2 linked regions of the Homo sapiens genome follow. The protein of the gene in region 1 purifies or fractionates together with the protein of each later gene. This does not show direct contact. Each region holds a gene or a part of one and is shown on either strand. Other genes may lie near its edges.

What was found. The genes of interacting proteins can lie anywhere in the genome.
Region 2: the proteins of GCA (region 1) and LCP1 purify together in Homo sapiens (affinity purification with western blotting, with the first as the bait; one study listed by BioGRID). This does not show direct contact.

Annotation. Positions count from the first base shown.
Region 1 is NC_000002.12:162,354,132-162,357,631, reverse strand, and holds part of GCA (grancalcin), read right to left. Parts: intron 1,195-3,500; coding exon 1,151-1,194; intron 875-1,150; coding exon 727-874; intron 1-726. UniProt on the Homo sapiens protein: Calcium-binding protein that may play a role in the adhesion of neutrophils to fibronectin. May play a role in the formation of focal adhesions.
Region 2 is NC_000013.11:46,151,178-46,154,677, reverse strand, and holds part of LCP1 (plastin-2), read left to right. Parts: intron 1-1,732; coding exon 1,733-1,898; intron 1,899-3,500.

The DNA of each region.
Region 1 (3,500 bases):
ATTTGACTTATTTAAATTGCAATTTGAGATAAGCCCACTTCCATTGGGTTCAGATTTTAACTTCCAAAAAATTAATTTTCATACAAATAGATTTTGTTTAGAAGAGTGTAAATCACAAGCATAAGAACAATTCATAAAGCTACTTAAAACTGCATTAAGTTTAAGCAAATTAAACACCATTGTATGTTATCCATTTTAAAAGTACACTAGGAACATCAGCTTATCAGAGGTATAAGAATAAAGTTATATACTTCTAAATTACTCTAAAATGCAACCTTTCCATCCTGATGTATTTTGGCACCTGCTATGTGTTCTGCACTATCTAAGAAAAAAAAGACAAAAACATGGTTTCTACCACTGAAAACCTATTTTGTACAGACTTTTGACTGACTGAGGCAAGCTTTGGCTCCCAATTAGATATCCTGCCAAGTTATAAAAGAATACAATCTAACTGGTAAGTACTAACAAAGAAATAAATTTAAACACAACAGAAGAAATTCAGAATGTATGCATGTATGGAAGATCATCTTTTGAAAAAAATCATAATTAAAATGGTTTTGTTGAGGTCTTTGGTCAGAATTTACCTACAACCTTGAAAACAAACAAAGGAACTTGCTGGCAAAAAAATACATCCCTTTATTAGTTAGTAAATTGAAGCAATTAAGTTCATCTAATCAAAGAACAAAGATTAGCTTTATAGATTCTAAAGAATGTTAATGTTCTTACCCATAAGACCAATGGCTTGACGCAACTCATGATGTTCTACTGTGCCACTTCCATCTTGATCAACAGTCATGAAGTTTTCCTTCCAGGCATTAAGAGCTGCCCATAGCTCTTTGAATGCATTAAATCCCATTTTTCCTGTGTGATCTCTCTGATAGTTTTATTAACAAAAATAAATTCTGATACCTGAGTTTATCTGACTCTAAATCATTGACTAAAACATGAGTATGCTTCTGTAGACTTAGCCAAACTCATTATATGAACAGACTTCTGCATAAAAACTAGAAAGCCTAGAATTTAAACAGGATCTTACAAAGTATTTTTAAATTCACTAGTTTACTACAGGCACTGAAATCTAACCACTGGCTTGATAGTCAGAAAGCAATTACTCTTTATTCTAGTATTTTCTATTTCTATTCAAGGATACATCCAACATGGCAATCATAATTCTGCAGGTTTCCAAACTGAAGGCTGTAAAACATATTCAATATTTAAATTAGAGTATGCCCAACTTTATCTATGTAAAATTATGACAATCTCCAGTTTCAAAATAAAACATTAAAAAACTGCCAAAATATATAAAATCACCACAATCAACAAGCTATTATTGAATGTTAAGCACCCATTGTTTAAAAAAAATTACTGCCTTCAAAGTACTCACATCTAGTGAGGGGACTAAGTTAATTAAATGAGCAATTACAAACTAACTGAAAATTACTGTGACAAAGACATTCCAGGTATGTAAAGCACTTGGCTTCACCCAAGCCTGGGGAAAAGGAAGGCTTCCAGTCTTCATAACACAAATGACAAGTGGAGTTAAAGTAGAAGTTTGACATGTACTCAGAGATCACAAAACTTGCATTAAAGTATATGGGAGAGAGTGACATATGATGACATCAGAAAGGCAAATGAGGGCCAAATCATGAAACTTTTGAATACTACCCCCAAAAAGTTTGGGCCAATGAAAAGCCACTGAAGTGTTTTCAGAAGCAGAAGGGAAATTCTAAAATTTCCATTTTAGAAACTTAGTTTACAATGAATAAAATATAAAGTGAGATGATATTGGAAATAGGTAAGTCCATTGGTAATTTATTGTAATAGACCAAGTAAGAAAAAATGAGCATCTGAATTGAAGCAACTGGTTTTTCTCGGGGGTTGGGGGGAGAAAAAAGGAAGAAAAAATCAATACAAGCTATCTTAAAACCAGGGGTGATTTGAAATATTAACACTTTCATATTTATAGAACTACAACTGATGACCTATTGATAAAATTCAATTTTTCTAATCCTTTTCTAATTTTTCTAATCCAATTACATTCAATTTGTATGCTGACATATCTCAAGACTAATTTCATGCCCTGATAAAGAAAACATCACGTTAGTACAGTTTAAATTTACAAAGTGCTTAATAGCAGCTTGTTAATATGAATGAATGAAAATTTTCAAAATTATTTTATCCATAACATCTTAACATTTTATAAAAGCAGAAAATTATTTCAGCTAAATTTTAGACCCACTAAAGAAAAAATTATAAGACATTCCAAGAGTTAAAATTGCTGATTTTCTTTAAATGTTTAATATAGTATCAATGTTAGAATTGTTGGTTGTAGTATTTTCAAATTGACAACTCAATAGATACTCAATGTGTTCTTAGCATGAGTAAGGTGGCGTGTGTTACATGATTTCACATAAACATGCTAAACGTATAATAGTTCCAATTGTAAAAAAGGAAGAAACTGGGACCCAGAAAGGCAGTTCCCCACGTTTACAAAGCTAAGGCTATACAACTGTCAGAGTGAGGGGATTACATGAGAAATTTCTGGAATGGTATTTCCTCTTTTGGGCAAGTAAATAATATCTATTTTGCTTTACAATTAACTTGGCACACATTCATAAAGTGGGAGAATCCGAATTAATGATAATAGATCGCTAAAACTGAATCAGCAAATGAGCAGATCTTCAATCTCAGAATAGGAATGTGTATGTATAAGAAGAAATATTTAGGACAAAGAGTGGAGAGACAGACTTTTCAGGAAAGTTGACAGATTTTTCACTTCCTCCCCATAGCCCATTAGAATGGAGAGTAAACTGATTTAAGGCATAAAACTTTAGAGAAAAAGAGAATTAGACAGGAAACAAAGTAACAAAATTTTGCAAGTTGAAGAGCTGATGGATGTGAGTTAACCAACCTAGATCTGAGAAAATGGATTCCTGAACTTGTAATGAGAAAAGCTGAGAAGCAACCCTTGGAGAAGACCCCAAATGCCAAAGAATTGGCAGTACTTCTGAAAGTGGGTGTGAAAGTGGAGATAAAAACAGAAGAATTGGCTGAATGTCTACCTAAGGAGCATTCTAAGCCTCATATCCCCTCCCTGCCTCGGTTCAGTTGGATGGATGCTACACCTACTTCCAACCCAGCAGAAATCTGGAATTTTATTCTCTGGAGGAGTCTCTGAAATGTAAGATACCAGAGCTGAGACAGGGCTATCTTCTAAAAGCAAGGCAATTAAAGGACAATTTACAAAAGATTTGAGAACCCTTCTGAGTCCACCTCTCCTTTCCAGGCAGAAGGTCAACTGAAAACCCAGTCCAAAAGGGAATCCCTAAAGATACTGACACCCAGAGTTCCAAGACAAAACTGCCCAGCCAAATCACCATACAGTGAAGCCCACAATCAATGCCTAACCATGATCTCAGGGCTTCTAATCAGCAATTTAGTTAAAATAAGAGCAAAGCAGTATCATCAGATAACTGAGAAAAGCACCTAACATGAAAGAC
Region 2 (3,500 bases), on another chromosome or scaffold:
GTCATACTTCAGGGATAAAGGGATACATTTCTGAGCAGCAAAGAAGGGAGACTGGTGGAGTGGTAGCAGCTGGGGCTTTGTATGTTTGTTTTGGCCACTTAGGAATAAAATTCACTTTGGCTAAAGTTTTAACTCAAGCTTTCCTTAGCAATTTATCTTTGATTTGATGCCAAATAAACAGCATTTTAGATGAAAACATAAGCCTTTCTAAGAAGCGAGGGGGTGAAAAACGGGAAGTACTCTGGCAGCCTTCATAGTAATTTTGGCCACAGCCACGAGTATAATAAATATAACTTGCTTTTATTCCATCAATTTGTTGATTAACTGGAATAGTAACCAGCAGTAAGTGTATTTCTGTGTTGTGTTCCAATATTTTAACATTATCATAATTCTTTTGCTAAGAAACCATATCTAACTTCTTAAATCATGAACGATACATTATCTCCTGTGTGGATTTAAGCAACCTTGTGTACTTTAAAAATGGAAATGGTAACCAAATTGAGAACAATGATTAAACACATATGAATGCACTTAATGTTAAATTTACTCATAATCTTGACCATATATAGAAACAGTATTTTTCACTCATCATTTAAGCACTAGAACAAGGACCCACTTTTCTTCTGATAGTTCTTTTCCTAATTCACTGGCGGCCTTTGCTTTGTTTTTAATTTGCCAATTAAAACAATTTCTATACATCTCTGACATTGATATCTCTTCCTTTTTAAACTCAAGAATAGTACATACAGAGTCTGGACTGAAAACTCCCTTGACTCTATCTCGACTATATGTGAGTTACATTACCTGCATTGTTGTTACTCATAAGAACATAGAATCTATGAGTATGTGTGTGTATACTCAGGTTCCCTAGTTATTACAGATACTCAACAAATCAACCTAGCAAAAACCATTCCATCTTTTCCAGGAATTTTAATCGTATCTATTTTTCATTTTCGTTTTCTTTTTTTTTTTTTTTGAGATGGAGTTTCACTCTTGTCGCCCAGGCTGGAGTGTGATGGCATGATCTCAGCTCACCGCAACCTCTGCCTCCTGGGTTCAAGAGATTCTCCTGCCTCAGCCTCCCGAGTGGCTGGGATTACAGGCACCTGCCACCATGCCCAGCTAATTTTTGTATTTTTAGTAGAGATGGGGTTTCACCATGTTGGTCAGGCTGGTCTCAAACTCCTGACCTTAGGTGATCCACCCGCCTTGACCTCTCAAAGTGCCGGGATTATGGGCATGAGCCACCGTGCCAGCCTTTTCATTTTCTTAACACCCAATCTTCAAGTCAAAAAGCTCTTCTGCTACTCTCTTTTATGATCTTGATTTACATCAACAATTGTCTTATTCATGATGGCCAGTGACAGGACAATGACTTTCTCAAAGGTGTCCCTTTATTTTTGGCCAATAGAGATGTTTTGTGTGTCAGCTTCATCACAGAGCAAGATGGAAAAATATAGGCCTCATCAGTCTCATGCCAACCAGAATGGGCCTTCAACTTATGGTGCTGGTTTGATTGAATGGACCACTGCATGAGTGGTCGGTGTCTGGGTTACTGGATTTTCTCTTCTGGTTATGAGTCACTGTTTTTTTCTCAATGTTAAAATGAGTGAAGACCATGACTCTAAACCTGTGACCTTCGCAGAAGGAAAACATTGTTACTGTTGCCATCGGTATTATTTGGCATCTACAAAGTCATAGAACAAAAACTTGCATACATTTTCTCCCTCAGGAAAATCTGAACTTGGCTCTGAACTCTGCCTCAGCCATCGGGTGCCATGTGGTCAACATAGGGGCTGAGGACCTGAAGGAGGGGAAGCCTTATCTGGTCCTGGGACTTCTGTGGCAAGTCATCAAGATTGGGTTGTTTGCTGACATTGAACTCAGCAGAAATGAAGGTAAGAGCAAGTCCCAAAGGTCATTTATGACACAGCTTTCTAATAACTTACGCGTTGGGGACTGTAGGAGGAAGATGTCAGAAATTCTCAAGTTTTGAAAACTACACAGTTATATTGATTCCATGGTATTCATGTCACAGATTCTATACACACAGACCAGACGTTTTTTAATGATAGAGCAAAAGCTTTTTAAGACCATAGACTAACAATAATGTTTGTTTGGAGCATAGGGCTCAGTCTTGAATGTTTGGCACTCTAACCTCAAGAGGTTTTTTCAGAGCTCACTTTGCCTTTAGATATTTGTAACAAATAAGAGGACTTTTAACTTGCACTTTGCGAAGTAAGCAACTCACATTCATATACTATAGTGAAGGTACCAGATTAGGAGGAACTTGGTCTATTTCTTATCAAAACTATAGAGGAAGGTATAGGTCAAAGGGTTCAAGGTTGCAATTATATGGGATGAATAAGTGGAGATCTAAACAGCACGAGGGCTATAGTTAATAATATTGTGCTGTATACTGGTAATTTGCCAAGAAAGTAGATTTCAGGCACTCTTCCTACAAAAAAGAAAGAAAGAAAGAGATAGAGAGAGAAATGAAGAAAGAAAGAAAGAAAAAGAAAGGTAACGATATGAGATGTGAGTATGTTAATTTGCTTGACCAACAGTAACCACCTTACTGTGTATGTGTCTACCAAGATAAGTATACCAAAACATCACGTTACACACCTTAAATCTATGCAGGCTAGAATAAACATTTTTAAAGACCGTAGAAAATTCCATTTAGGGTTTCAGAGTTCTCAACTAAATATGTAGCTGTCAATCTTATTGCGTCTTCTCTCACCATCTTATCTGTATGTAAACAGTGACAGCCCCCTGGCTTAGACAGAGGTAGCCCACCTTGATAAGTATCATGCAAAACACGATGTTATCTTTTAGTTATCAGGTACAAATCCTACCAATATGAAATCTGTAGTCAAGTTCTAATCTTTAGTTATACATACTTTTTTATTTATATGTCCAAATCACAATAACCAATGAAAAATCCTGAAATATTATTTAAAAACCAATGTATTAAACATAATATAAAGAAGGCGGGGGAGAGGAAATAGGGATCTTAGAACCTGTGAGAAAGAATATTGATCTTCAAATAATGACCTCAGCTAAATTTAAACCTTCTAGCTGAGCAAAAAAATACTTACTCATCTGGGAAAACGTAGAGGAGAGTTGATTACATTGTTGAGTTGCTATAATTAGGCAGGTAAGCACTTGAAATATAAAACACCTATGGGAATAGACAAGAGAACATTGTTATTATTACAAAATTGATCTCTTAAAAGCAAAAATGTTGTCATATTGTGAAATGTGGTTTGACAGACCCAGCAAAACATCCGAGCCAGTAGCCTTGGTTATTTTTATGGCTCTGCCCAAATGTTCTTAAACATAGCGTTGAGATTCACTGTGCTTTGTTTTCTCCATCTGGAAAATGGAGATAATAAATAAGCTCACAATGGCTTACGCCTCTTTTTAGGGAATAATAATAAAATATTTAATCCATGGGAAAGGCTACAAGAACCTTTACCCCAAAGAGGTAACGTTGT